2 separate regions of the Homo sapiens genome follow, and region 1 is linked to region 2. The links come from fine-mapping of genetic effects on gene expression. Tissue or cell type: whole blood. Region 2 holds a variant in brackets; the other region holds the start of a gene. All regions are shown on one strand. Distances are from middle to middle. Region 1 holds the start of UCHL1 (ubiquitin C-terminal hydrolase L1). Region 2 overlaps UCHL1-DT (UCHL1 divergent transcript).

Region 1 (15,625 bases), 26 kb after region 2:
TCAGTCTTGAGAGGTTAGATCTCACCAGTCTTAAGAGACTAGAGGCTTTGGTTATCTAACTATGGGAAAGCTTGCCCCTGATTTCTGCTCTGGCTCTACTCTGGAATACGGAGATTGGTCCAGTCAACTGGACACGTGGGATTGTCTTGCTAACCATGAATATTGTATTTCAAGCTCTTTGTTAAGTGTTATAAACTGCCACTTGTTTGAGTGACAAAGAATTAGGACTGATATTTCCATTTAAGTGAAAAATCTGAAGACTGACATTTTGTGCTAAGTGACAAAAATGGCAGCAAAGTCAACCTAAATGGTCTAATAAAAAGAACAAATGCTAGAGAAGATAATTAATCACTCAATACCAGGCCGAAGACAGGAGTGCAGGGGATATGATATACTAGTCAAGTAAACTAGCTCTGCAGTCAGCCTTCTGGGGTTTGGATTCTGGTGACCTTAAGCACAGTACTTCATCTTGCTAAGCCTCATCTTGCTAAGCCTCAGTCTTCTCATCTGCAAAATGGAGAGGATAACATTACGATCCTCATAGAGTTGTTACTGGAATTACCAGTGCCTGGCATATAGAATGTGTGCAATAAATGTTGCTGGACTTCCAGCTATGGGAGAGTAAGGAAACTGATAAATCATCTCTCCCGAAAATAATTATAAAACTGGATAAAATTGTCAAGGAGTATCATTTTAGGGTTCTGGAAACCAACTAAAAGCAAAGAACAAATTGAAGAGCATATATCCACCCAAAAAATGCTGGGCTTTGGGCAAGAATGAAGGTGTCTCTGGCATTCTTGCATGTTCATTCCTAAGGATCCCTCTCACCCCCAGCTTGGTCAGCACAGTAATTTTACCAGGGTGGAGCTGGCCTTGAAAGCCAGCAGCAGACAAAGTGATGACTTGATTTGGAGTGAAGGGCAGGAAATCTATGCCCAGCGGTGAATGAGAAAAGCCTTCAGCTCTCCTAGCCTGAGGCTGCAGTCTCAGGTGAGGAAGCTCCTGGAAATGAGATAGCCATTGAAAACTCAGATACTAAGCTCTCATCCTCAGATGTCTGGGTGCCTGTACACATGCAGTAGAGACCCAAGAGAGCCTAAGAGAAAGCAAAGGTGAAGACAGATTTGAAAACTTTTCAAACTTGGAATGCACTCCCCAAACCAAACACAAATCCACAGCAAAGCATGGAAACCTTGCAGGCTCAAGGTGTTTGAGCATAATCTCTCACCAGTCACTGGCTGATAACTCAGCTACGAGACATAGGGTCATTCTTAGAAAGACAGGTAACACAGGAAAATAAGAATTTTTTTAAAACCCAAACTGAGAAGAGACATTTTTTTAAGACCCAAACTGAGAAGAAGGCAGCTACACACTGGAGTGATCCTTTATGTAGAAAATCCTAAAGAACCAACAACAAAATGACTAGAATAAAATAAGGGTTTAGCTAGGTTGCGGGAATATAAAAATCAATTGTATTTTACATACTAGCTATGAGCAATGTGATACTGAAATGAAGAAAACAATTTCATTCACAATGGCATCAAAAAGAATTCACAATGGCATCAAAAAGAAAAAAAACCTAAAAATAAATTTAGCAAAAGAAGTATAAGGCTTTTATACTGAAAACTACAAAATATTACTGAAATAATTTTTTAAAGCTCTAAATAAATGGAGGACAGTCCATGTTCATGGCCAGGGAGACTCAATATTGTTAAGATGGCAATTCTACCCAAATAAATATATAGATTCAACCTAATCTCTATTAAAACCCCGAAAGGCTTTTCTTGAGGTGGGGATTGAAATTAACAAGCCTGTCTGCAGATCCAAAAATGTATATGAAAATGCAAAGGACTTAGAATAGCCAAAACAATTTTAAAAAGAAAACAAAGTTGAAGAACTTGCATTACCTGATTTCACAACTTAACTATAAAATCATATTAATCAAGGCACATAGTAATCAAGATAGACAAATCACTCTGTGGAACATAATTAAGAGACCAGAAATAAATCATTACATTTATAGTCAAAAGATATTTGACAAAGATGCCAAGGCAAATGAGTGGACAAAGTATAACCCTTTTAACAAACAATGCTAGGACAATTAGATACACATATACAAAAAAATGAATTTAAACCCTTACTTTACTCCATACACAAAAATTAACTCAAAATGCATCACAGACCTAAATGTAAGAGCTAAAACATTAACACTTCTTAACAAAAAATAAATAAAAGAAAATCTTTGTAACCTTGGATTAGGCAAAGATTTCTTAGATGACCCATAAAGGAAAAACTGATAAATTGGACTTCATCAAAATTAAAAACTTTTGTTCTTCAAAAAACACTACGTACAGCTTGGGGTGGTGGCATGTGACAATAGTCAATAGCCATGAACCAATATTTTGCCCAAGGTGTCCTTGAACTCTTATCTCAAGCCATCCTACCACCTCTGCCTCCTTAGGCCAGCCTGGGCACAATAGTGAGATCCTATCTCTAAAAAACAAAACAAAAACCTACTCAAAAACACTGAGTAGAAATTTAAAGTCACAGAACAGGAGATGGTATTTGTAAATCAAATATTTGATAAGGATCTAGTATTCAGAATATATAAAGAACCATTATAATCCATTAATAAGATGAAAAACTCACTAAAAATGGGCAAAAGATTTGAATAGACATTTCACCAAAAGAAGACACTTGCATGGCTAATAAGCACCATGAAAAGATGCTCAACATCAGTTGTCATCAGGGAAATGCAAATTAAAAGTGCAGTGATACCACCACATACCCACAGTAAAGGCTCTAGTCAAAAAGACATTGACAACAGCAGATGTGGCAAAGATGTGGAGAAACTGCGACTCTCATACATTGCAAGTGAGAATGTAAAATAGTACAATTGCTTTGGAAAACAGTTTGAAAATGTCTTAAAAGGTTAAACATAGAGTTACCATTCAACCCAACATTTCCACTTCTAGGTATTTAACTAAAAGAAATGAAAACATTTGTCAACATATAGACATACACAAATCTTCACGGTAGTGTTATTCATAGTAGCTAAAACTAGAAGCAACCCAAATACCCATCAACCACTGAATGGACAACAAAATGCGATGTATCTGTACAATGGAGTACCATCCAACAATAAAGAGAAATTGACCTCTGATACATGCTAGAACATGAAGGAACCTCAAAAGTATGCTAAGTAAAAGAAGCTAGACATGAAAGACTAAGTATTGCATGATTCCATGTATGTGAATGTCCAGGAACGTCCAGGATAGGCAAATCTATAAAGACAAGAAAACATAAGTAGTTGGCTGGGCTGGGAGAGGAAATTGACTGCAAAGGGCAAGAGGGAGCTTTTGTGGGTAATGGAAATGTTTTAGAACCTGATTGTGGTGATGGTTGTACAAATGCATAACTCTACTAGAAAGCGTTGAATTGTACACTTACAATGAGCGAATTTTATGGTATGTCAAATGTACCTCAATAAGCTGTTAAAAAGTGTTCCAATTACCTGAGAAGATAATATGTTTGAATAGAAACCCATCAAATGTTTGACAGAGCAGAAAATTCGTCTATTACTTCTCAGCCTCAAACTACATCCTTACGCGTGGTCAGATTCAGCTACTTAACAATGAGTGTCTGTTAGTTATCAGAATCATCAGAAGGTAGTTTTTAAAGGGTCCATCCCAAATCTTCATTATTGTAAGAAAAATAATGCTTATGATAAAAAATTCTATTGCTGGTGAATCAGAATCTTTTTTTTAGAAAGAGCAACATATTCAGGCCGGGCATGGTGGCTCACACCTGTAATCCCAGCACTTTGGAAGGCTGAGGTGGGTGGATCACTTGAGGTGAGGAGTTCCAGATCAGCCTGGTCAACATGGTGAAACCCCATCTCTACTCAAAATACAAAAATTAGCCGGGCGTGGTGGCGGGTGCCTGTAATCCCAGCTACTCAAGAGGCTGAGGCAAGAGAATCACTTGAACCTGGGAGGTGGAGGTTGCAGTGAGCCGAGATCGTGCCACTCCAGCCTGGGCATCAGAGTGAGGCTCCGTCAAAAAAAAACAAAAAACACATATTCATCCATTGATTTTGTTTCTCTGCCTGTATACATACTCAGTGGAATCTAAAATGCTTAGGATTATAAACAAGAAAACTGGGACCCAAAGATCACACCATTCTTTAGAGGCAGAGTCAGGAAGACTGGAATCAAGGTCTTCTAAATAATCATCTATAATGTTCACCATCACACCAAATTGCATCTTTACTTCTTTTTCCTTTGAAGACACACAGAACCATATTCTCCTCAGTACTTTGTGGGTATCTCAATATCAGTGAAAAGAAATTACTTGGCTGGGCATGGGGGCTCACGCCTGTAATCCCAGCACTTTGGGAGGCTGAGGTGGGTGAATCACCTGAGGTCAGCCATGCCTGGCTAAAAATACAAAAATTAGCCAGGCATGGTGGCGCACGCATGTAGTTCCAGCTACTCAGGAAGCTGAAACAGGAGAATTGCTTGAACCCAGGAGGCGCAGTGAAGTTGCAGTGAGCCCATTGCGCTGCTGCACTCCAGCCTGGGCAACAAAGCAAGATCTGTCTCAAAAAAAAAAAAAAATTACTTACTGAGGAAAATCACAGAATATTAAAGCAAAAAGGGATCTTGGAGTATATATTCATCCAAAAAAATGCTGGACTCTGGGCAAGAACAGAGGTGTCTGTGGCGTTCTTGTATGTTCTTTTCTAGGGGTCCCCCTCACCCCCACACCAGCTTGGTCAGCACACTAATTTTAACTTTTCCTTCCTTCCTTCCTTCCTTCCTACCTACCTACCTACCTACAGAGTTTCACTTTGTTGCCCAGGCTGGAGTGCAGTGGTGGGATCTCAGCTCACTGCATCCTCTGCCTCCCAGGTTTAAGCAATTCTCCTGTCTCAGCCTCCTGAGTAGCTGGGATTACAGGCGCGTGCCACCACGCCAGGCTAATTTTTATATTTTGAGTAGAGATGGGATTTCACCATGTTGGTCAGGCTGGTCTTGAACTCCTGACCTCAGGTGATCCACCTGCCTCGGCCTCCCAAAGTGCTGGGATTACAGGCATGAACCACTGCGCCCAGCATGCTTTCTTATATAAATTAATATTTTCCTCTGATTTCTGTTTGTCTTGTATTCTTAAGATTTCAAACTTCCTGCCCATCCCCCTCCAGCAGAAGTTCTTTCTACCACATCATTAACAGATATTCATCAAGTCTTTAAAAAGTTCCAGGTATGATGTGGCAGACACTGGTAGCTGCCTGTCCAGTAGCCTTGCCCCTACCCTATTCCTTGGTAGCAAAGCCCACCTTACTTCTCGGAGTCTAAAAATGCTACATATTTACTTTCTCAGCCTCTCTTTTGACTAGTGCATGAATATGTGATTAAATTCAGGCCAATGCTACCTAAAAGGAATTCTTCAGGAGGGTGGGGCTTCTGCAAAACTTCAGACTTGAGAAACAGCAAGAGTGAAAGAGAATATCATTTTCCTTCTTGCCTTTGGACCTTGTGTGAGGATGTGATTCTTAGAACTTCTGTAGGTACCTTACAACCATTATAGATGACACTTTCAACAATAACGTAAAGACAGTGGACTGGAAAGACGGAAAAACCCTAAATTCTTGATAAGATCATTGAGCCATGTGTGAACTTTGTCAGAATCAAAATGGAGTCACTTGTGTTAAAAAAACAGGCTGGGTGAGATGGCTCACACCTGTAATCCCAGCACTTTAGGAGGCCGAGGCGGGTGGATCATCTGAGGTTGGGAGTTTGAGACCAGCCTGACCAACATGGAGAAACCCTGTCTCTACTAAAAATACAAAATTAGCTGGGCGTGGTGGCACATGCCCGTAATCCCAGCTACTCAGGAGGCTGAGGCAGGAGGATCGCTTGAACCCGGGAAGGGGAGGTTGCGGTGAGCTGAGATCGCGCCACTGCACTCCAGCCTAGCAACAAGAGCGAAACTCTGTCTCAAAAAAAAAAAAAAAAAAAAAAAGATAAAGAAAAACTTATCCAGGTGTGGTGGTGCACACCTGCATACCCAGCTACTCAGGGCGCTGACACATGATGATAGCTTGAGTCCAGAGTTCAAGGCTGTCGTACACTATGATCCTGCCACTGCACTCTAGCCTAGGCGGCACAGCAAGACCCTGTTTCAAAACAAAAACAAGACCAGTCGCCGTGGCTCACATCTGTAATCCCAGCACTTTGGGAGGCCGAGGAGGGTGGATCACCTGAGGTCAGGAGTTCGAGACCAGCCTGACCAACATGGTGAAACCCCATCTCTACTAAAAATAAAAATTAGTCGGGCGTGGTGGCACATGCCTATAATCCCAGCTACTCGGGAGGCTTGAGGCAGGAGAATCGCTTGAACCCGGGAGGCGGAGGTGGCAGTGAGCCAAGACTGCACCACTGCACTCCAGCCTGGGCAACAAGAGCGAAACCCTGTTTCAAAAAACAAAAACAGAAACAAAAAACAAACAAACCACAAAAAGCCTCTGACAAATAGAGCTGGGAAAAGCCAGGAAGAGAATGATTCTCATGCATAAATGCCTGATAACAAAAATTATCACAAAAGACTGCAAAACCCACAACTTTGTACAAAGGCCATCACGATCTTACATAAAAAATCCTTCTGCAAGGACTTGTGCCTAGAAACTGCTTGTCCAGCCTCAGACTGGTGTCACCCTTGTTATTGATCCTTGTAGCCAAGGATAATTATTTCAAAACAATTATGTAATATTCCTCATTTGTCCTTAAAAAACCTTTGTCTTCTTGTATCTTCCTGAATATACACACAGTTTACTATGGCATGTGTATTTCCATTGCAATGCCCTATTCCTGAATAAATATCACTTTCTTTTAGAGAACATTTCTCTGTTATTTATGTTGACACATGGACAACCCTAGAACCACCAACCTCCAGTCATTGAGTTAAGAGAGGGAATTCATGTCCTAAGCTTTCAGTCAGTTTTAGTTGGGTATTCTGCCCTTGGTAGACATAGTATAATACAGCGGTCCCCAGCCTTTTTGGCCCCAGGGACCAGTTTCATGGAAGACAATTTTTCCACGGACTGGGGGTGGGAATGGTTTCGGGATGAAACTGTTCCACCTCAGATCATCAGTCATTAGATTCTCATAAGAAGCACACAGCCTAGATCCCTCGCATGTGCAGTTCATAATAGGGTTTATGCTCCTATGAGAATCTAATACTGCTGCTGATCTGACAGGAGGCGGAGCTCAGGCAGTAATGTTTGCTCACCCGCCGCTCACCTCTTGCTGTGCCACCCAGTTCCTAACAGGCCACAGACCTGTACCAGTCCTCAGCCTGGGACTTGAGGACTCCTGGTATAATATAGTACAGTGGTCAAGAGTGCAGACTGTCTGTGGTCAAATTTCAGTTCTCATGACTTAAATAACCATAGGCAAAGAACTTAACCTTTCTGATCTTCATTTCTAAATGAGAATAATAATAGTAACCTACCTAATAGGTTGTTATGTTGATTAAAAGAGTTAATACACAGAAAACACAAAGAAGTAGTGCCTGGCATCCGTAAGCAATCAGTAAGTGTTAGCTATGATTATGCTGCTAAAAGCATGCTCACCATTACATGTGAAGAATTTACATAAATGTTGAACCACTCTAATTATTAAGTGCTTTCTTATATAAACTAATATTTTCATCTGACTTCTACCTGTCTGTCCTGTATTCTTAAATAATCATAAAGATTATTCTCGCCCTCTTTGTATTTTTGAGCATTTGGTATCATGTAACTCCCCTCCCCATCCCCCAAACACACACACAAACCCTTTCTCTTCTCCACATCATATACTGTCTTCTCAATTTCTTCAACCACCTTTGTTCATTATTTTGGCGCTCAGTCTCTGAAAACTCTCTAATATGTCAATGTCTCTTTTGAAGTGTGGTAGTTCGAATTTTCAGTTGAAAAGTATTTATTGAGTGTTCATTATATGCCAGGCTGGGCATCATAATCCAGTTATAGTCTGGTCAATTCTGTGAGTGGATTAGATCTTGAATATTATATTAATCTAGCCAAAGGTTAGCAAATACCTGGTTATCCTTACCACTTCCCTTTCCCATACTCGTGGTAGACATCACTAATCAATCACAGCATTTTTCCCCCTACTGGACTCAGGACTCTCCTTCAGGAACCTATGATTAAAATGAAATTGAATCTCTCACTCCTGGTATAAATAAAGATTGCACTAGCTTTATAGTCAAATTATGACACCTGAAATATTTGAATCTTTTTCTCAGGTACTGTTCACAAAGCCAGATCTAATTCATTAATGCATCTGTAAATGATTTTTTTTAAAAAATGTTTTTCCTTCTGATCTCTGTGTATTTATTTTTAAAAGGTTACAATCAAACTATTGTGTTGTTTTCACTTGATATTTTCCAAATTATTTCATACTTTTGCAATCATAGCATCAAGAAAAAAGTTAATATAAAGATTAACTGTATGGCAATAATTGACAACTGTTACTATAATATAGAGCTTTACACATATTCCTGTTACATTTTTAATAGCTTTATTGTGATACCTAAACCCACTTTTTAGTTTTTTAGTATATTCACAGGGTTATGTAATCGTCACCTAAATCCCTGTTAAATTTCATCATTTTATTTTAAACTTATTTTTTAATCCCAAAATTCTGCCATTTATTATGTATTTATTTATTTTAAGAGATGGGGTCTCACTCTGTTGCCCAGGTTGGAATGCAGTCATGCCATCACAGCTCATTGTAGCCTCGAACTCCTGGGCTCAAGCAATCCTCCCACTTTGGCCTCTCAAGTAGCTGGGACTGCAGGTACACACCACCACACCTGGCTAAGAATTCTGCCATTTAGACTGCTTGTTCTTGCTTGTATGCACGACCTCTCTTTTTCTCTGCTGTAATAAAGTGGCACCAGACAAGGTTAAAACCATTGTCAGGTGGCTACAGGTTGAGGTAGCTCCATCCAGTACCACTTTTTTTTTTAAGGTAGAATCAATTAAATAAGCTATAAAACCACCTCAACTGTGGTATCAACCAATGCCAACCCTGGCAGCATAAGAAATACAATGACAGTGTTCTACCTGTCCATCCAGTTAATAACCCCCAAAGAAAAGAAGATAAGTTCTGGCTGGCATAACTTGTTCTAAATGCATCCATCTTATTGTTTCTAAAAGTAAAAAATTATGAGTCCTAACATTTGGCTAATGACTGATATAAACTCTTCTGGCCTGCAGTTTCAGCAGTATATTCCCAATCACCCCCTACTTCTTCTTCTTCTTCTTTTTTTTTTTTTTAAAAAAGATTAGGCTTAGGTTTGTTCATATCCAGTCTCTGGCATCTCTTTGTAAGCAGGGAGTTGTTTCATTCACTGCTCTGATGCTTCCTGGCAAACAGTAGGCCATATATGTATATGAATGTGAATGAATTAATGCCTTCAACAAATATTTCTGACAGTGATTTCATGACTGCTTTTATTAGTTATTTTGGCAATCACTTATAACTGCTAACGTCTGCTTGCCGATCAGCCCTTAGCTTAAATGTCACTTCCTTCAGGACGCCTTCCTGATCCCCTCCACTAGGTTAGGTGCTCCTGATCTCTGCTCCCTTTCATACAACTCTTATGACTGATAAAAACAGCACGAGGGGGCCAGGCGCGGTGGCTCACGCCTGTAATCCCAGCACTTTGGGAGGCCGAGACGGGCGGATCACGAGGTCAGCAGATGAGACCATCCTGGCTAACACGGTGAAACCCCGTCTCTACTAAAAATACAAAAAAAATTAGCCGGGTGTGGTGGCGGGCGCCTGTAGTCCCAGCTACTCCGGAGGCTGAGGCAGGAGAATGGCGTGAACCGGGGAGGCGGAGCTTGCAGTGAGCCGAGATCGCGCCACTGCACTCCAGCTTGGGCGACAGAGCGAGACTCCGTCTCAAAACAAAACAAACAAAACAAACAAACAAAAAAACGGCATGAGGGAAATTTCCATGTTTATTGTGTTCATCTTTGTATGCCTAATTCCAAACTTTCCAAGCTCGGCACCCAGCACACAGTAGGTTCTTAATATTTGTTGAGTGAATGAATAAATGAAGTAAATTGGAAATGTAATTTGTCTTTGTCTAAAGGCAAGAACTCATTCAATATAACCTAGTCACTTGTCTTGACCTTCACCTCTTTTTTTCTTTAACAACCTTATTGAGGGAAAATTTACATACCATAAGATTCACCCATTAAGCTCCTCTTACTAATTTTTTTCTCTCTCATTTTTGTGTGTGAAGGTCATTTTCTAATGGCAAAAATGGAAAGAAAATAGAAGTAGAATGTTGTGGAATCTTAGATAAAGAATGGGCTCTTGGAGCCCAGTTTAGCAGGGTTTACTTCTCAGTTTTACTTTTCAATTGTGACCGTAAGCAAATTAACTTCTCTAGGCCTGGGATTCTGATCTGTAAAATTGCACTAATATGAGTCTCTTCACGGCTCCTCTAAGGATTAAATGAGAGACACATGCAAAGGATCCCCAAAAACAATAACTCAAAAAATGTTGATTCCCTCCCTTCCCTCTGTCATCTGTTAACCTCAACTTCCTAAATAGAAGGTCTATTCTTTTACCATCATCATTATTCTCTTCGGTGCCTATTTTTAAAAAATACTCAACCTTCTTGCTTCCTTCGCTACCTAAGTATTTCTGCAAGCCCACTTTGTTCTGCAGCTTAGCTTTCCTGGCACAATTCTTATAGATTTTGGTCCCTTTTAAAATTCATTCTTCAGCAAATGCTTTCTCTCTCCATCTTTTGACTAGAGATCATTAGAGATCACCTGAGATCATTAGAGAACAGTGGTTTCCTTGGTTGCCATTCCCTTTCTTCTTCATTGGGAGTATTCTGCGGTGAACTCAGACATTTTATTTTTCAAAGCTTCCCATTCTTTTAAAAATGCTTTTCCTTTTACAGCCTCTCGCTCAAAATCATACCCATCTTTTCCCTGGATCTGTTTTCTCAAGTCTCCAATCGCCTGCCTTCTTTGTGTCTTGTATTACCCTCACATCCCCCAGCTTTCTACTGCTCTCCCAGGACCAACCATTTCTTCCGCGGGAGTCACATTACATCAGCATTCCTAATGCAGTATCTGTTATCTACCAGATTCTGTTTTATTCTAGGTAGTCACTTAAAAACGAACCTCGGTACTGGTCTGACTTAACATGGAGGAGGAATTGTCTAAGGTTAAACGCAAACTGCTGAGAGATTTGGGGCGGGGGGCACACATTTACATTCATTCGTATTAAATATATACCTGTTGAATTTGTGCTTTTTCTCAAATGCTTCAGAGACTCGAGCTTTAGAGTAATTGGGATGGTGAAAGGATGGGTTTCCAGAAACTTCGCCCAAAATTAAAGACTCCATCAAAAGGACTGCTCCATACACTCAAGGAACACCCACCAACAAATCCCGTCTCCACAACCACCAGATTATCTCACCGGCGAGTGAGACTGCAAGGTTTGGGGGCCCGGCCGTACCACTCCGCGCTGCGCACGGGGGGTTCGTACCCATCTGGCCGCGACCGTCCGTTTCCCCCTCGCTTGGTTCTGCCCCTGCTCCCCCTGCACAGGCCTCACAGTGCGTCTGGCCGGCGCTTTATAGCTGCAGCCTGGGCGGCTCCGCTAGCTGTTTTTCGTCTTCCCTAGGCTATTTCTGCCGGGCGCTCCGCGAAGATGCAGCTCAAGCCGATGGAGATCAACCCCGAGGTGAGCGCCAGGTGCACCGCTACCCGGAGAGCGCGAGGCCGAGGGAGGGGGAGCCGAGTCGCTGATCGGTTCGGTTTTGCCTTTTTCTTTGCATTTGCCTTTCAGATGCTGAACAAAGTGAGTGGCGTCTCGCGCCGTCTCTGGCCCCCTCCCCCGCGAGCGCCGAGGCGGGGGCGCCCACCGGTTCCGGCTGCTGGCAGGGACCAAGCCGCCCGCTGCGAGCACCGGAGACGGCCGGGCTGGGGCGTGGGCTGGGCGCCTTTCCTGGGCCCCTGCATTTAGCGGGTGACTCTACGAAACCGGTCACGGGGAGACGGAGGGGGCTGCGCCCCGTGGCGAGCGAGCGCCAGGCGGAGCTCCCGAGGGCGTGGCGCGGGCAGCACAGACTCGGCTGCACGGGCTTCGCGGGCGCCACGTGTGGGCCGCGCTTTGTGCTGTGTCATTGCGCCGGCCCGGGTGGGGGTGGCAGGGCGGGACTGGGGCTCCTCCCAGGCTCGGGTGCGGGCGCGGAGGGCGCGCGCCTCCTGGCCCCGCCCCCTGGCAGGTGCCCGCGACCCGCGTGTCCCCGTGCGCCTGGCCGCCTTGTCTCCTCTCCGCAGGTGCTGTCCCGGCTGGGGGTCGCCGGCCAGTGGCGCTTCGTGGACGTGCTGGGGCTGGAAGAGGAGTCTCTGGGCTCGGTGCCAGCGCCTGCCTGCGCGCTGCTGCTGCTGTTTCCCCTCACGGCCCAGGTAGGGCGTGGGGCCCAGGATGCGCCGGCCGCCGGCAGTGCACGCCGCTCCCCAGCTTGAGTCCTCGGGGGCTCCCCGCCCCGCCCCCTCCCCTGTAGGTGATGCGGGGCGCGCCTACAAGGAAGGGAGGAGCCTGCATTTTCGTGGTACCTACTCCCTGGGCTCCTGTTCCAGCGGTGCCTGTCGCCTTCTTGCCCATCCGTCCACAATTGCCTTAAATTTGGAAGAGAGGCAGTATCTCAGTTCCATCTATCCCGTTATCCAGGGAAATCATTCATCCTACTCATGAGTTCCCTCGAACTTGGGCTTTTTCGAGCCTCCGGTTCCGGGGAATGGCTGCTGGTTTCCCTTTAAGGGCTATAACCTGTCAACTCATTGTTTGCTTCTCAGACTCCCACCTAGCTGTAGAATGGAGGGGGAAGGGCTGACCTAAATCGCAGGGAAACAATTAGGTTCGCTAATTCTCCGCCTCCATTACTTGGGTTTCTGATGGTCTTAAGGGGTTCTTCTCTCTTCTCCACTCCCACCACTTGCACACTTGGTTTTTAGCCTCTTGAATGTATTTCTTAAAGCTTAATCATTTTGTGTATGGTTTCTGTGTGGGAACCTCCTTCCTCTTCACTTATCCTTGTTCATCTCTGACCTTGTAGCTAACTGAAATAGGGGGTTATTAGCTCAGTTTTGAAAGCACCTTTGCATTTCCCTTGAAATGATTTTCCTCCTACAAGTGTGCATGGATAGATGTATCTGAAAGACAGCGTCAGATTTTTTTTTTTAAAGGATAGCTAGGATATTTGCAGTCTTGTGATGTATGGAATCCCAGTCATTAGCGCATGGCATTGTCTTATCTCCTATTGCTGTCACTTGACCGCTGATGTGGGAGTGACTGAAATTAGCTTTAGCAAAACTTGGGGCATCACTCTAAAGAGTGAGGTTAACTGAAGCACCGTCCTAAGGCTAGGTGTTCTGGAAGCATCTGTAGCCAAAATCAAGAGTATGGGAAGTTCCAAGCCTTCCTCCTAGTAAGTAAGCTAAGTATTGTGGGTAAAAACACTTATTTACAGCTAATAAGATGATCTCACTGACATGTTTTTATTGCTAAAGTCTTTTACTTGGGCTAAAAGGAAGATGCCAAATTGTTGGAAGTCGAATTAGCTTCCTGGTTGACCAAATCAGTCTCCTGTCTCCAGTTGAGCATCACACAGAGGTTTTTTATTAGAGCAACCATGATGACTCGGAGGTTTTGAGCAGCATTCAGAGGCAAGGCCTCTGGGAGGCAGTGGTGCAGCATGTTTGCCTTTAAAAGCTGACTGTTCTCCTTTTGCTGAATCTTGTTTAGAGAACATTCTAGTTTGTGTTATGTTTGAAAGAGCTCGATACTTTGTCCTTTAGTTTCAATTCAACCTATCAGATTTATCGAGCGCCTATTCTGCTACACAGAATGCCTACTGGACAAAACACTGAAGCCGATTGAAAGAAAAGTTGAGGTTTTATAGGTTGACTCCAAAGATGCTAATGTTAATTTGGAAGGCATTTAATTTTTGACTAAGGGAATGTTATGACCCCCTACATGGACCACTTCTGAAACATTAAGTGCTAGTAGACTATTTACAGAATGATTTCCATGGAAGAGCTCAAGCAGCCCTAAAGGATGGTGCTATCCCATTTTAACATTTCATCTAATTAGCCTAGAAAATGAAAAACACTTACTGGTCAATGAATACTAAGTTGAGGATCCAGTTAGATAGAAGCGAAAAAGTTCTGCTAGTTGGAGTTTAAGTTGATCTTCTGGGGTAAGAGATCTTACTCTTCTATTAGTACCAGAGAGCAAGCTTAAACTTCAGTTCATGTACAGAAATGCAAAGCTACTAGAATTGGAAATAGGTTTCTGATGGTCTGTCTGGTTTTGCTCGTTATGGGAAATCAGTGTTTCTATAGTGTTAGTACCCTACTCTTTAACTGGGAAGTCCTAACTTATTTATTATATTTTTATTTTTTAGAGACAAGGTCTCAAACTTCTGAGCTCAAGTGATCCTCCTGCCTCAGCCTCCCTAGTAGCTGGGATTATAGGTGCAAGCCACTGACCCTGGCTCAAGAAATCATAACTTCTAAGGTCTTTAAAGCTAGTTAGTGAAAAGTCCAGATAGGCTTACTAAATTACTATACAGAAAGCTAGCAGATGCTTTGAGGAAATCCGTTTCCTAGTCCGATTCATTTACCAGTCTCTATCCTCCTCCTCAAATTGCCAGTCTGTCCTCAAAGTAAACTGTTTAGCTGGCAAGGACAAGCTAGTGTCACATCTTCCTCTTGTAAAATCACAGCCCAATACCCTGGATCAGTTGTCTTTTCCTTAAAAAGAGGGCGGAGGTAATGGTTAATTTCTTTCACTTGTTCTTTTCAGCAGTTAAGGCCGTTTTTGTTTTTGAAGCGAAGTGTACTTAAGCCGAGTAGAAGTAGAACTTTAAAGAATAATGAAATGTAAACCAGCTGGTGCTCTTGTTGGGCATTCAATTGACTGAAGCTTGATTTAGGATGCCTATGTGAAATAGTTGTTAAGTGTTAAAGGGAGAAAATAATGAATTGGTTTCTTTGTTTTCTGACTTCGTGACACCATTTTGGGCTGAAAGGTTGCAGTGGTGTCTAGACACAGCCTTGGGCAGTATCCAAGGCAGTCACTGCACTGCAGCACCAGGGTGGAGTCTCCGAACCTCTCAGAGCCCCACTGGCTGGCGTGGGTGGTGTGGGAGGCAGACAGACGGGCCCTTCTCTGGGAGTCAGCCAACATCTAGAACCAGGGGTTCTGGTCACACATCCCACTGGTGTTTCCATTTAGTTGGTAGAACTCATGTGCTGCCATCTGTTCTTTGCACTTTCATTCTGAGATGTAAAAACGCTTTTTACATTCGCAGCATGAGAACTTCAGGAAAAAGCAGATTGAAGAGCTGAAGGGACAAGAAGTTAGTCCTAAAGTGTACTTCATGAAGCAGACCATTGGGAATTCCTGTGGCACAATCGGACTTATTCACGCAGTGGCCAATAATCAAGACAAACTGGGATTTGGTAGGTGTGGGTTTTGAGGCCAGCCATCCTAAGCTTGAACTTGAAACATGG
Region 2 (16,060 bases):
GGTACCAGCAAGGCCTCTTCTCTGATGAACCCTCTACGCCTGACTGGTTTCTCTAGTCCTAAACCATCCAATATGGCAGTCACTAGCCACATATGCTTATTTAATCTGAAATCACTTAAAATCAGTTAGAATTAACTCTTCGGTTCCTCTTTCATACTAGCCACATTTCAAGTGCTCAGTAGCATATGGCCTAATGACTACTGTATTGGATAATGTAAGTAAAAAGCATTTGCATCACTGCAAAAAATTGTATTCAACAGTGCTGCTCTGGGCCTTAATGTCATTAGGGCAATCCTTTAATCTCTCTTCATACTGCACTATTCCTGGGAGGACCATGTTTCCATGGTCTACCTTCCCATTGAGCTTCAGTCCTATTTTTCCAAACTAAAATTATTATTAGAGTGTAGAAAGGTACAAAGAGGTACAAAGCATAAAGTCCCCTACTATCATGGAAAGAATAGGGGCACTGGAGTAAGACCTTATTTCACATTCCAGCTCTTAGTAGTTGTGTGACCTTGGGCAAGCTACTTTACCTCACTGAATCTCACTTTTCTTATCTGCAAAATGGGCATGTTAATTTTTTCATTATAGGTTTATTTAAGATTAAATAACATATGTAAAGCTTCTGGTAGGCCTCACATAGGATGATTTCCTTCCTTCCACTCCTATTTCAGTTAATGACATTCCCCAATTACTCAGGTTTCTAAACTAGAAATCTCAGTCATCTTCAATTCTTCCTTCCTCCTCAACCACCCGCATTAAATTAATCACCAAGCCCTTTTGCTCCCAACTCAGGAATGCCTGCCTCTCAAATGTGGGCCTGCCTCTCTGTCCTCACTGTCCACTGTCCTCACTGTCTTTTCATGCATATTTCAGAATCCTGCTAACCAACCTTGATGACACCCATCACTCCCAATCCAAGCCCTTTCTTCACACCGCTGCCAGAGTGATCCTTCTAAAAAAAGGTGCTGATGATGTCATTCTTCTCCTTTAAAACCGCTGATGACTTCCAGTTGCTTAAAGATAAAATCTTAACTACTAAACTGAAGGACACATAATCAAACTCCATCACTCCATCACTGCTGCTTGTTTGGTTGGTAATAAAAAGAAAATTAAAAATATAACAACCCTTATTCCATTTCAAAAATATATTTGGATTCCTCTACTACCAACCTCTTTTTTCAGCCACCCCGTCCCCAGCTCATACCTCTCCCTCTACCCAACCCCCACTACACCCACACGCCAGCAACTTATGCCCATGAGGCATTCCTGCAAGCACGTAGTGGCCTTTCCCGACTCTGCCCTTGCACACAAATCTCAGGCTGGACTAACACTTTTACATATTCTTTATCTGGCAGAATTTTACTTACTCTCTAAGGTCCAGTTCAGATATCACTTCTTCTATAAAAGCTCCTTCAACTCCTTCAGGGAAAGGTGGACACCAGCTCATCTGTGATGCCATAGATTTGAGATAGATTGTAGATGCCGTATTTGGGCTACCTGGGTTTAAATCCTGGCTGCATCACTCTCCCACTGCTAGTTTTGGGCAGACGACTTAAACTCTTCACCCCTCAGTTTCCTCATCTGAAAACAATGATAATCATAGCATGAATATCTTATTGTTGTTACCAAGCATGTGAGATATTGCACGTGAAGCTCGTAACAATGTATCTGGCCCACAGGCAAGCACTCAATACAGATTATCTTCAAATTGTTCCCACTATTATTAATTATCCATCTTATCCTTTTGTCTCAATGTGAATTTTTTTTTACATTTTAAATAATTTTCAATTAAATTTTTATGTTTTACATTTACATTTGATTTTTATATTAAATACAAGTATTTTATTACAGAAGTACTTCATTATTTATTGATTAAAATTTAGGAAATTCAGATGACATGCCAAAGAGATTACATTCTCTATTGTATGAGACATCTCTTGGTTACAAGCAAAAGGAACTCATTCTGGTTAACTTACCCAGAAAAAATAATTTCTGAGAGAGTTGTCAGGCAGCTCACTGTCTCAACCCAAAGATGGAGAATCAGGTTAAGAAAAGGGTCGGGATCCATGGAGGACTGGCGGCAAATAACAGACAAGACCACGGCACAGTGTGTCACCAATGGCACAACCCCATGGGCCACTTGCTGTGGCCACAGTTCCTGAACCTTTGCAACTTAGCTGAAGTAGGAAGAGCATCTTATCCCCTCTCCCACTCACCCACCCCACGATCTTTACCTATATTTGGTCACACACAGGCCAACAAATCTTGCAGTTACAAACTTTGGTGCCTTTGCTTATGCCGTTCCTTTTGCCTGAAATAGTCTCGCTCTGTCACCCAGGCTGGAGTGCTGTGGCACGTTCATGACTCACTGAGGCCCCGACCTCCCTGGCTCAGCCTCCCTCGTAGCTGGGACCACAAGTGTGCACCACCACACCCAGATAATTTTTTTATTTTTCGTTGAGATGAGGTCTCACTATGTTGCCTAGGCTGGACTCGAACTCCTGAGCTCAAGCAATCCTCCCACCTTGGGCTCCCAAAGTCGTGGGGTTACAAGCATGAGCCACCACACCTGGCCTCCTCACTTCTTGATTCCAGAGCTTGCCATATGTTTTTGTAGCACTTCACACATAGTACAGTTAGATGTTGTATCATTCTTTGTTGCCATGCTGTAAATTCCTATCTTCAGCCACATCACAGAGAAGACACTTGATAAATATCTGTTTAGTGAATGAAAGGAAGAAAAAAATTAAATTAGTTTTTAAGGCACTGCACTAAGCACTTCACAAACATTAACTCACTGGGCACAGTGCCTCACACCTGTAATCCCAGCACTTTGGGAGGCTGAGGCCAGTGGATCACTTGAGTTCACAGAGTTTGAGACCAGTCTGGGCAACATGGTAAAACCCCTTCTCTACTAAAAATACAAAAATTAGCCAGGCATGGTGGTGCACACCTGTAATGCCAGCTACTAGGGAGGCTGAGGCAGCAGAATCGCTTGAACTCAGGAGGCAGGGGCTGCAGTGAGCCAAGATCACACCACTGCACTCCAGCCTGGATAACAGAGTGAGACTCTGACTCAAAAAACAAACAAACAAACAAACAAAACCATCCAAATGTTAACGCAATTTAGTCTCAATTTATAATAGTTTTTCCTCAGATAGGCTGATTACTCTTTTATAACAGAGGAAACTGAGGCCAAGGGAGTGAAATTACTTTCCAAAGGTCACACAGCTAAGGGACAGAGGCAGAATCTGAAGAAGGCAGTCTCGCTCCAGAGCACAGGCTTTCACCTAAAGAGATGTTATGACTCTGTGAAAGGTAGTACAGGGCCCTTTTTCTAGAAAAATTCTACCACATCTTTTTTTGTTATTTAAAGTGCTGACAGTGTCTTGGTAAGCAGAGAAAGCTAATTAAATGTTTCTGTACATTTTTAATATTGAAAAACATATTTAGTAAATTTCATAAACACGTATTCAATCATTCCTGAACAATGGTAATAGACAGCTCTATACACAAATTCATAGAAACTCAAATGAGCACAAAAGCACACAATAAAATTCATCACACTCTTTGTCTCTGCCCTTCCCCCAGGTTACCAGGAGTTGTTAGTGCAGACACTGGCATTTTATTGAACTGGTTCCGGCTACAAGGAATTTATGTTCTTATGCCCAGGGCAATCTCCTTCCCTGGTTATATGATATCTCTCACCACTCCTAGAATCCCTCTTTTGGTTATCATCAAACAGCAGAAACTTGACTCCAGAGCACCAATGTGCAGGGTGCCTCACAAGTAATTGTCTGCATGATAAGGGCAAGAATTTAAATCTTGTGAATAGAGGAAAACCATCACCTTCATGTTCACAGGGTACATAAATTACACCATCCAACCTGAAAAAATACTCCATTTTAAATTCATATAAACATAATTAAATAGGAATGGGGAATCTGAAATGAGGAACACTGAGAGAGAAGACATTTAAAAATAACTAGAAATCATTTACAAGAGAAAATGCTTTGCTCATCCCAGAGATAGATAAAATATATATTGCTAATTTGCAAAGACATTGATAGTCTTCTTGATCAAGCAAGGGATTTATAGTCTCCTTTCTCTATTTGTTCCTGCCAGTATCTTCACTTTTAAGTGCCTCATTACAAGGTCTGCAAAATAGGAAAAGAAAGGAAGATGGAGAAAAAAGATCTAAAGATTTCTTTTGCTTTTAAGAGCTTATTATAACAAGCAAACATTTGTCATTAGGTTAAATGAAAGAAAGCTAGCTCCTTACAAATATCTGAGATCATAAAAACCAAACTTGGTGGGGAAGGGACATTAGTATAGGAAGAGGTATGATTAAAAGTAATAGCACAGAATTAGTAGCTAATATGGAAGTTAGATATTAGCAAAAAAAAAAAAAAAAAAAAGATTCTTGGTAGGGTCAATTAGATAAAAGGAAAAACTTCAAAAGGATATAACAAGTGCTCCATCCCGTGAGACTTTTAGAATTAACCTGGACAAAGAGCTAGAATATATTTCGTAGAAAGCAATCTTTTCTGACAAGCTGGTAGATTAGCTCTAATTGATTTTTCCACCTCTAATTTCTTTGACTCGCTGAAATGCTATTTGTAGAAGACAAATGAGCTTTCCTTGAGGTTGAATTTTCTGTCTTTATTTTAATCAAATGAGATATGATTTCTCATGAAAATGGTTTCCAAGTCAATGGCTTTGCAAGTAATAATTTAACTCTTATTTAGACAATAAAAGTTTAAAAATCAAAGTTATAGCATTAGTAAACATGACAAATCACCATATATTTTCTTCCATCATGCACTGGCAAAATTCTTGGAATAAAGTTTCCAAGAAGTGAAGGAATAGGGTACAGGAAAAGTGGAGCAGGCTAATATTCTACCAGTTTTTACCTTTTTGTAAAAGGTAAAATAGCTTCATATCCTCTCTAGAAAGTTATCACTAATAGAAAAACACTTAGTTCTGTTGAAATTATGTTAAAGTTTGTATCAGATAACAGTTCTGAGAACATTAGGTACAATATCGTATGCATGTTATTTATGTTATTTGTTGTCATAAAAAGAGCAAAATTAAAAATGTACTAGAAAAAGTTTTGCCTAGAGTCTGAATTTTCTAAGAGAACACTTAGGGAAAGAGGAGAGGAAGAGGAAATACTAGGTGAGGCAGGGGATAGATCTCTTTCTCCTCATATATATATTATATATATATATTTAATATCTAAAGTCTTATATATATATTTCAAAGCTGTTTCTACAAATTTTAATGTGTTATTTTTTTCATGACTCAAAATATGACTAGAAAAAATATTCTAAATTTTTAAAATTTTTTTTACTTCAGGTCATAAAAATATTTTTCCCTATTACAGTCTGACAGGTTACAAGTTTTGTGTATTTTATTTTGTTTCGTTCTCACATTTAAACTTTAATTTGTTTTCTAATACACTGTGAAACAGGGATATAACTTTGCAAGCAGAAAGCCAACTGTTCTAATGCAACGTATCAAACAATCTTTCCATCGCTACTTATTTATAATGTCACCTCTATTATATGTCCAATTCTCATTGGTCTGTTCCTATGCTCTCTATTCCCTTTCATAGACTACTTCTTCTATTAGGGTGGTAATATTGCACTATTTTTGTTTCTATACCTTTGTAATATATCTTGATATCTGGTAGTGTGGGTCTCTCTTCTCTGTCCTGGTTTATCAAAACTGACTTAGCTCTTCTTTCATAATATCTTTTCCACATAGAATTTATACTTCCAATATCAATTTTGATGAAAAATCTTTAGAATTTTATTGGTATTAATTTTTTTTTGAAAGAGATTCTTCTCTTTTGTTATTCCTAAACTGTTTGGTAGCAACATTCATTTAACAAACATATTTGCATACCTAGTAAGTAGTAGGCAATGAGTTGGTTATTGTGCTATTTGGCCTGTTAGTCCAAAAATAGTTAAACTATCAGAGTATTATAAAAGACACAAGCCATTAATCAGGCTCATCCTGGCTGACTGTTTTGGGTTGAATTGCATCCACCCAAAAAGATATGTTGTTGTCCTAAGCTAGTATCTCAGAATGAGACCTTATTTCATAACAAGGCCAGACAGATGTAAATTAGTTAAGATATGATCATACTGGATAGGGTGGGCCCCAATCCAATATGGCTGGTAGTCTTATAAGAAGACAACTACGTGAAGACACAGGAAGAATGCCCCCAGGAAAATGGAGGCAAAGATTAGAGCGATCCATTTATAAGCCAAGGGACACTAAAGATTGCTGGCTGTCAAAAGAAGCTAAGAGAGAGGCATGGAATAGACATGACCTCAGAGCCCTCAGTAGGAACCAACCTGCTGACATTCATTTTTATTTCAAACTTCTAGCATCCAGAACTGCAAGGGAATAGACTTTCGTTTTGTGTGCTTTGTTATGGCAGCCCTAGGAAACTAATACACTATTCATTCCAAATAAATACCTTTATAAATAGTTAAAAATTATACAGGAAATTTTTTTTAAGACAGTGTTTCACTCTTG[T/C]TGCCCAGGCTGGAGTGCAATGATGCAATATCAGCTCACTGCAACCTCTGCCACCTGGGTTCAGGCGATTCTCCTGCCTCAGCCTCCCGAGTAGCTGGGATCACAGGCATCCACCACCATGCCAAGCTAATTTTTGTATTTTTAGTAGAGACGGGGTTACACCATGTTGGCCAGGCTAGTCTCGAACTCCTGAGCTCAGGTGATCCACCTGACTCCACCTCCCCAAGTGCTGGGATTACAGGCGTGAGCCGCCTCGCCCAGCCAGGAAAATGTTCATTAACCTAAACTAATATCTATAAACTTTAGAGACAGTCAGAGGTGTCAAAGACAAAATAATGAAGTCCAAATAATTCTTGCAAAATGTTACTTTCTTTTTCTGTGATGACATATTGACTGCACTTTAAAAACTCCCTAGGTCCAAAAAGTGACTTTACCTCCAACTTATTTCAGTATTGATTTTGTGAAAATATGTAGAACGAACACGAAATCTGATAAATGGATCCTTCAAATGTGATTGCAATAACAAGAGGCACAATACATGTCTCAAGTTTTGGAGTACAATCTCCCCATAGGTATTGGCCTCAGACAATCTTCTATATTTCAAATATAACTAATCCTATTGCCAGGAGCTTGGGGGAAGGGGGGAATAGGGAGTTACTGTTTTATGGATACAGAATTTCAGTTTTGCAAGGTGAAAAGAGTTCTGGAGATGGATGATGTTGATGGTTGCACAATAGGAATGTACTTAATGCTGCTGAACTGTACACTTAAAAATGATTAAGATAGTCAATTTTAGGCCGGGTGCGGTGGCTCATGCCTGTAATCCCAGCACTCTGGGAGGCCGAGGCGGGCAGATCACGACGAGGTCAGGAGATGAAGACCATCCTGGCTAACACGGTGAAACCCCGTCTCTACTAAAAATACAAACAAATTAGCTGGGTGTGCTGGCGGGCTCCTGTACTCCCAGCTACTCAGGAGGCTAAGGCAGGAGAATGGCGTGAACCTGGGAGGCGGAGCTTGCAGTGAGCCGAGATTGCGCCACTGCACTTCAGCCTGGGTGACAGAGCGAGACTCCGCTTCAAGAAAAAAAGGAAAAAAAAGATAGTCAATTTTGTTACATGTATTTTACCACAATGTTAAAAAATAAAAAAATGTAAAAAGTAAGCCAAGCTGGAAAAAAATGTATATATAATTAATGTTCCATCACTGCATTTGAGAACATAGGTACATAGTTCATACAATAATCTATGTTTACAAAGTAATTCTCATTTTTTTAAATTGAGGTTGGCGATGACCCGCCATATTAGGGCACCTCAAGGCATAGGGCTAGAGCAGGCCAGAGCAAAAGAGAAAATGCAACTCAAGAGTCCAGGAGTATTCCCTAATCCAATACGGCTGGTATTCTTTTTTTTTTTTTTTTTTTTTTGAGACGGAATCTTGCTCTGTTGCCCAGGCTGCAGTGCAATGACGTGATCTCGGCTCACCGCAACCTCTGCCTCCCAGGTTCAAGCTATTCTCCTGCCTCAGCCCCCCGAGTAGCTGGGATTACAGGCACGCACCACCACACCCACTAATGTTTTTGTATTTTTAGTAGAGACGGGGTTTCACCATATTGGTCAGGCTGGCCTCGAACTCCTGACCTCGTGATCCGCCTGCCTTGGCCTCCCAAAGTGCTGGAATTATAGGCGTGAGCCACTGGGCCCGGCCATGGCTGGTATTCTTATAAGAAGAATATAAGAGGCTGGTGATGACGAGGACTAGAGGATCAAGGTGATATCATCAGAACTGGATCTTTCTCCAGCTCCATGTCCTGCCTCTCTTTTCTGTCTGAGCTGAATTACCCTCTTGCAGGGCCCCTTTCCACAGTGGCTCTAGGTCCTCAGAGTGGTTAAATTCCTGCTTGAGACAAAAGACCTGCCTTCCTTGATTCTTCCTGACTAAACAGATCCTAAGAACTGGGAGTCAGTCTCTCTTTCTTAAACTGAGTTCTTTATACCATGGGAACATACAACACATTCTAGGAATTATTGGAAATCACAGGATAAACCTACATCCTCCTGGAGTGACAAATGTGTTAGGAAATTTGGAGAAAATACTTGATATTAGAACATATATATAGACCAGGCACGGTGGCTCACGCCTGTAATCCCAGCACTTTAGGAGGCCAGGGCAGGCGGATCACCTGAGGTCAGGAGTTCAATACCCTGGCCAACATGGTGAAACCCCGTCTCTACTAAACATACAAAAATTAGCTGGGCATGGCGGCGGGCGCCTGTAATCCCAGCTACTCAGGAGGTTGAGGCAGGAGAATAGCTTGAACCCGGGAGGCAAAGGTTTCAGTGAGCCAAGATCGCGCCACTGTACTCCAGCCTGGGTAATACAGCGAGACTCCGTCTCAAAAACAAAAACAAAGACAAAAATACACACACACACATACACACACATATATAATGAAGTAGACTAAAAAGTGGGCAAAAGTTTTTTAGATGAAACACAAGATGTCAAAAGGCACATTTCTCCGGAGGCAGGCAACTGGGGACCTCTGGAGCTCAAAGTTCTGCTGTAAGGGGTAGGTTAGAGGGAAAGCACAATGGGAAAGCTGGATGAGCAGACTTTGTGATGGCTGCTTTGAACCAGAGAGGAAGACAGGCTCCATCCCGCAGGCCAAGCAAGAAAAGGAGAAAACCTGGAGCAAGCCTGGGCCTTCATAGTTCCATGAAACGAACCTATGATAGGCTTTTGTACTTTCCCGTGTAGTAACTAACATGCTTGAGGGCTTCCTATTTGCTAAACGTTGTGCATATATGAATTCACTTAATCCCAGAGGCATTCTGTGAGGTGGGTACTGTGAGTATTCATATTTTCCATATGGGAAAAATGAAATTCAGAGAGGTACAATAACTTTCCTAAGGCAACTGGAAAAATATGTGAGTATCTTCATCTCTTTCCACATTTTGTGTCTTCTCCATTTTGTGCTAATAGAATGTAGGACATACAAAAATAGAGAGATCCAGGAACTTGTTATCTCTAAAATAAAATGTCACTGAAGTCAAAAACAGCTAAAATCAATGCTTGAATTAGAACATCTCATTTCCTACCTCTTATCCTAATGTTCATTTTTATACTTTTGTTCTCTTGATTTCATGTTTTTCAACTGGATGTTTTAATAGTAAACTTTGACTTCCTTCTTTACTACATCTATCTGTCTGCCTGCCTGTCTGTCTGTCTGTCCGTCCGTCTGTCCATCCGTCCATCCGTCCATCCATCCATCCAACTATCTATCTCAAAAGACACATTTTTTCTGAGGCAGGCACTTGAAGGCCTCCAGAGGTCAAGGTTCTTCTGCTGTAAGGGGTAGTTTAGTGGGAAAGTTTGATGGAAGAGCTTGGTGAGCAGAGTCGGTGATGGCTGCTTTCAACGTATATATTTCTCTCTTATAACCTATATAAATGTTGCCCTGTGTATAACCTCTTTGGCCTGGTATGCTACATAAAAATAGAGAAACATATGAACAAATAAATAAAAGATAAGTTTGACAATATTAGAGCTCTGAACAAGCAGGTTTCATGAGTACAGAGGTCATAAAGAATCTCTTTATAAAGGTTGTATTTTTTTATGTCTTTATTAATTTTCTAGGTTCCATGTACACAGTTCATTTTCCTCTAAAAAAATTCCAATGTTGTTTCAGTGTCTCATAAATACAAGCTCAAATCTATAATTTGGAAACTTTTAGGAGAAAAGATTAAGGCTGGCTATGCCTCATCAATAGCATTATTTTTTTTTAATGTTTAGTACTTTGTTCTTACTCTGCTGTGTTGCTGGGCGTACATCTGGGAATAGGAGGCTTATAGAGCCAGACTCTAAAGATGATTTCTATTCCTTTCTGACTTAAATGTTTTTTCTTTCTCTCTATTTCTCTCTTTCCCCCACCTTTCTTTCTTTCTTTTTTGAAACAGGGTCTCACTCTGTCACCCAGGCTGGGGTACACTGGCGTGATCACAGCTCACTGCAGCCTTGAACTCCTGGGCTCCAGTGATCCTCCTGCCTCAGCCTCCAGCGTAGCTAGGACTACAGGCATGCCCCACCATGCCAGGCTAATTTTGTTTTATTTTTGTAGAAACAGGTTCTCACTATGTTACCCAGGCTGGTCTCAAACTCCTGGCCTCGAGCGATTCTTCCACCTCGGCCTCCCAAAGTGCTGGAATTACAGACATGAGCCACCGCACCCAGGGCTGATTTATACTCTCGTAAATCTGGCTTATGTATCAATTAATGTTCATACTGACATATTTCCCCACAGTATTCTAGTTTGCTTTTGTGGCATGGGAGCTAATGCCATTTCATCTCCTTAAATACTCTGCCCCAATAGATATAGAGCATTATTTTACATATGTTAGTTATCCACAATATTCAGGAACTTTGTTGAAATATGTGGTTTCTGACACTTGACATGCATAGAGAACAGTAGTTGCACAAAATTAAAATCATTTTTTAAAGAAGATGATTGAAAACAGTGGGAAAGTCTTTCCCCTGCCTTTCTGATAAGCATTCCATAATTTCAATACTTTTTAAGGCTCTCATTTTATTGCTTATAAATTATTTTATATCTTTCTATTTTTTATTTTTTTATTTTTTTAAATTTTTATTTATTTATTTTTTTGAGACGGAGTCTCGCTCTGTTGCCCAGGCTGGAGTGCAGTGGCACAATCTCAGCTCACTGCAAGCTCCGCCTCCCGGGTTCACGCCATTCTCCTGCCTCAGCCTCCCAAGTAGCTGGGACTACAGGCACCCGCCACCACGCCCGGCTAATTTTTTGTATTTTTAGTAGAGACACTGTTTCACCATGTTAGCCAGGATGGTCTCGATCTCCTGACCTCGTGATCCACCCACCTCGGCCACCCAAAGTACTGGGATTACAGGCGTGAGCCACTGTGCCCGGCCCTTTCTATTTTTTTAAACTTGTTTTTCAGTATGTAAACAACTCCCAACCCACTAATCAAACTTTGCAGATACTAAACTAGTGTTTAGGATAAAACTTATATGATCTCTTAAATATAAGCCTAATAAATACATTCATTAGAAATCAAGCTGTAACAATGTGGCAGTTTTAGAAAATCACAAACCAAATTCTTTTGCTGCAATTTCATGCATTACCTTGACAATCTAGGCCACCTAAAATATAAAGCGGTGGTAACAAAGGTGATGATAATTCACTGCAAAAGAGAAAACTGAAGTGGAAAAAAGCCCAACCAGCCAATGGTTTCCTTTAACCTAATTTCAAGTATATTTCTAAAGAGGACAATAATTGAAGGGAAATCAAAGGCAATTTCTAAAAAAGTAGATTTCTCTATTCTGACAAGTTGAAAGAAATTGTTGAAGGAAACTTTTGCCAAAACATACCACATTGGATCTTCTGCCTGAGGTCATTGTCAAAGTTGAGACTTCTGAAAATGCAGTATTAGTGAAACGTAAAATGAGTCATATGCTCTTTCCAATAGCCACATAAATAACGAAGAGGCATGTGGCATAGTGGGTTCTGTCCTACTTTGGCTACTTGCTGGCATTATAACCTTTGACAATTCATTTAACCACTCAGGGCTTCACTTTCAACACATTGAAGTGACAGGTGGCACTGGGTTGGAATTCCAGGTCCATCTCTTATTACTATATCATTTTAGGAAAGTTACGTGACTTCTATGAATCTATTTCTTCAACCATAAGATGTGAAGAAGACATCAAAAATTATTTGGGGCCAGGCGCAGTGGCTCATGCCTGTAATCCCAGCACTTTGGGAGGTGGAGGTGGCAGGCTCACCTAAGCCCAGGAGTTACGACCAGCCTGGTCAACATAGCAAGACCCCCATCTCTTAAAAAAAATTATTTGGAAGAAGGAAGGCCAAAAAATAATACATAATGTATTATTCAATTTACATAAAACTCCAGAAAATGCAAACTAATCTACAGTGACAGTAAGCAGATCAATGGTTATTTGGGGACCTGGGAAGCAGAAAGGGTGGGTGGAAAGAATTACAAAGGGGCAAGGAAACTTGAGGTGGTGGATATGTCCATGATCCTAATTTGGTGATAGTTTCACAGGTATATACATCTGTCAAAATTGATCAAATCACACATTAAACATTTAAAACATTTATTGCATGTCAATCACACCTTTCTTAAAAAGGGTCAGAGAATTCAATGAGATAGTATGTGAAAAACAATTAGTGCAGTGCATGGCACAAGTAGGCCTCCAGAAATGAGTCCCCACCCCCACAACCCCAGCTTCATTTATGTCACAGGGCTATTTAAAATGGTATTCTACTTCATAAACCTCCGTGAACTCTGAAATCTCCTTTGCGTTTTGTAGCTTGATAAATATTTTCAAAGAAAAATATGGGATAATATGAAAATACCTCTGCAGCTTATTTAGGATATTATTTCTGTGGGTTTTTTTCAAATCTTCATTAGAGGCATATTTTGCATTGTTGGAATCACACTTTACATAGGACTTGCATGCTACTTCTCAACTCCATGGTTTACCTAAGATGTCTGCAAACTATTTTTTCCTTTTTTCATTATTATTATTATTATTATTTGAGACAGGGTCTCATTCTGTCATCCAGGCTGAAATGCAGTGGCCTGAACACAGCTCACCACAGCCTTGACCTCATGGGCTCAAACTATCCTCCCACTTCAGCCTCCCAAGTAGTTGGGACTACAGGCGTGCACCACCACGCCTGGCTAATTTTTGTATTTTTTTGTAGTTACGGGTTTTTGCCATGTTGCCCAGGCTGGTCTCAAACTCCTGGGCTCAAGTGATCCACCCACCTCGGCCTCCCAAAGTGCTGGGATTACAGATGTGAGCCATCATGCCTGACCCACAAACTATTTTTAATGACTGTCTCATGATTTTCTTAGGGCTAAGAATTCCTGATATATTTGAAGGGAGAATTGCCAGGATTTACTGACAGATTGAATTTGGGATGTGAGAGAAAGAGGACTCAGGGATGACACTACAGTTTTTGGCCTGAGCAATTAGAAGTTTGATGAAGCTGACATTTTCTGAGAAAGGAAGAATTTGTAAAGGGCAGCTTCGGTGGGGAACTTCCATTTTGAGGAGAAGTTAGGTATTAAACATCGCTGGAGTAGGCAGTGGACCTGAGATCCAAGGGGAGGTCCAGCTGGAGATATAAATATGGGAGTCTCCAGCATAAAGACGATATTTAAAGCCATGAGTTGGATGTGGTCTTCAAGGGCATGAGTATAAATAGACAGCAGAAGAGGCTCAACAACTGAGTCATGGAGGCCCCCTAATGGCTAGATCCTGGAGTTGAGGAGGAAGCAGTAAAGGTGACAGAAAAGGAGTGCGATCAAGGAGGAAGGAGCGTAGGCTGTTTGGAAAGCCAAGTGAAGAAAGTGTTTATAGGAGAGAATGATGCTTATCACTCAAGTAAGAAGAGAATGAAAAACATGCTCTTAAAACAAAGGGTAGTTATATCAAGGGCACTATGAGTAGAGTGGATTCAAAAGGTTATATCCTAGGAAGATACACAAGTGGCCAATGAGCACAAGAAAATATTCTCACCATCATTATCCATCAGAGAAATATACATCAAAACCACAATGATGTACCACTTCACACCCATAAGGATGGATGAAATCCGAAGAAAAATAACGTGTTGGTGAGAATGTGGAGAAATCGGAACCCTCATACACTGCTAGTGAAATGCAAAATGGTGTAGCACTTTGGAAAACAGTTTGGCAGTTCCTCAGAAAGTTAAACATAGAGTTACCATATGATCCAGCAATTCATCTACTAGAAATATATCCTAAAGAAATGAAAACATATGTCCACACAAAAACTTGTACATGAATGTTCATAGCAACATTATTCATAACAGCCAAAAACTGGGAAAAAAACAAATGTCCAGTGTTCAGCAAAAAATTAAGAGACATAAAGAGAAACAAGAACGTATAGCTCATACATGATGGGGGAAAGTAATCAGTAGAAACTGTCCCAGAATTCCAGATGTTAGACTTAGTAGACAAAGACTTTAAGTCAGCTATCTTAAATATGGTCCAAGAACAAAAGGAGTTGATTTCTAAAGAACTAAAAAAAGTATTAGAGCAAAGTCTCACTAAATAGAGGTTATTAATGAAGAGATAGATGTTATAAAAATAAAAAGTGTCAACAAATCCACTCAAAAGTGTTTTCTTTCGAGAAAAAGGAAAGAGACTTTATTCTAGCAAATGGTTTGCAAACCAGAGATACACAGGCTTTGATATAAAATGAAGGTGTGTTCAGACAGAACAAAGAAAGTGCTTGTGTTTTATAGAGTTCTTGCGCAGGCTACCACTCTGGTCTACTTATGCAAACGATGGATGCAAACTTGCTTAGTTCTGCTTGGTTGAGGCTTGCTGAGTTCTGATTGGTAGCTGCAGGTTACAGTCTTTGGTTGGTTCAGGCAGCATAAACAGAACAGCAGCTACGAAGTCTCAAAGTTAAATAAGTGTGGGGGCTTGCCAGGAACTCAGAGTATGTGTTGTCAACTGAAGAATCATAAGGTTCAAAAATTTGGAGAGGAGAGCTTTATTTCTTATAAAGGGTTGTGGCCAGGTGCAGTGGCTCACGCCTATAATTCCAGCACTTTGGGAGGCCGAGGCGGGCGGATCACCTGAGGTCAAGAGTTCAAGACCAGCCTGGCCAACATGGTGAAACCTCGTCTCTACTAAAAATACAAAAAAAATTTAGCTGGACATGGTGGCGCGAGCCTGTAGTCCCAGCTACTCGGGGAGGCTGAGGCAGGAGAATCGCTTGAACCCAGGAGGTGGAGATTGCAGTGAGCCAAGATTGCACCACTGCACTCCAGCCTGGGCAACAGAGGGAGACTCCATCTCAAAAATAAATAAATAAAATAAAAAAATAAAGGGTTGCAATCTGCACACTGGCCATCTGCAGGCTGGGCAGTGTAGCCTTGGGCAGAAACTGGAAGCAGGCACTTTGAGGGAGGGAATAATGAGACTGGAATTTATGCCAAATGGTTTGTCTAAGTGTATATATTTAATAGGTTATAGGAGGAGTTATGAATATTTATGATGGGGTGAATGTGTGCATGCATAGTAAGTAAACATGCATGTTACTACACATGTCCCATGTTCACTTTAGGGTGGAGGCTTAACATTTAAATGCATTAAAATTAGGCTGTATAGATCAAAGGTGAAACAGAGGACACAAGGGCATCTTGTGCACAGCCTCTGCGAACTGACCAGAATCAGTCCATTGTCAATGGTCTCTTATTAGGAAGGAATGCTGATCAGCTGTTGTGTTGAAACTCCAAAAAGGGAGGGGAACGCAGCAGTGTCAGGTGGTTAGTTGATGTCAGTGGTGGTGCAAGTCTTTCAAAAGGGGCGGTTTCTGTTTAACCCTTAGGAAAGAAAGTCTAATGGTGGTTAGTGAGGGTGGGGGTTTAACAAGGTGTGTCTGACCTCTCTTCTTGTCGTGGCTGGGAATT

What was found.
Region 1: UCHL1 starts here. The variant in region 2 is fine-mapped to the expression of UCHL1 in whole blood (TOPMed, PIP above 0.99).

What each region holds. Positions count from the first base shown.
Region 1 is chr4:41,245,224-41,260,848 of GRCh38, forward strand. It overlaps UCHL1 (ubiquitin C-terminal hydrolase L1), which reads left to right and starts at 11,705. Exons shown (of 9, transcript NM_004181.5): 1 at 11,705-11,786; 2 at 11,892-11,903; 3 at 12,386-12,514; 4 at 15,424-15,574. The coding sequence starts at 11,754. It overlaps UCHL1-DT (UCHL1 divergent transcript), which reads right to left and starts at 11,504. Exons shown (of 3, transcript NR_102709.1): 1 at 11,336-11,504. RefSeq lists a silencer at 11,821-12,580 and an enhancer at 12,415-12,915.
Region 2 is chr4:41,218,765-41,234,824 of GRCh38, forward strand. UCHL1-DT (UCHL1 divergent transcript) reads right to left here. Exons shown (of 3, transcript NR_102709.1): 2 at 2,573-2,720; 3 at 1,310-1,584. Among named protein-coding and RNA genes, the nearest start is that of APBB2, 12 kb to the left of the region's middle. The variant T/C (reference allele first, on the strand shown) is at 6,553.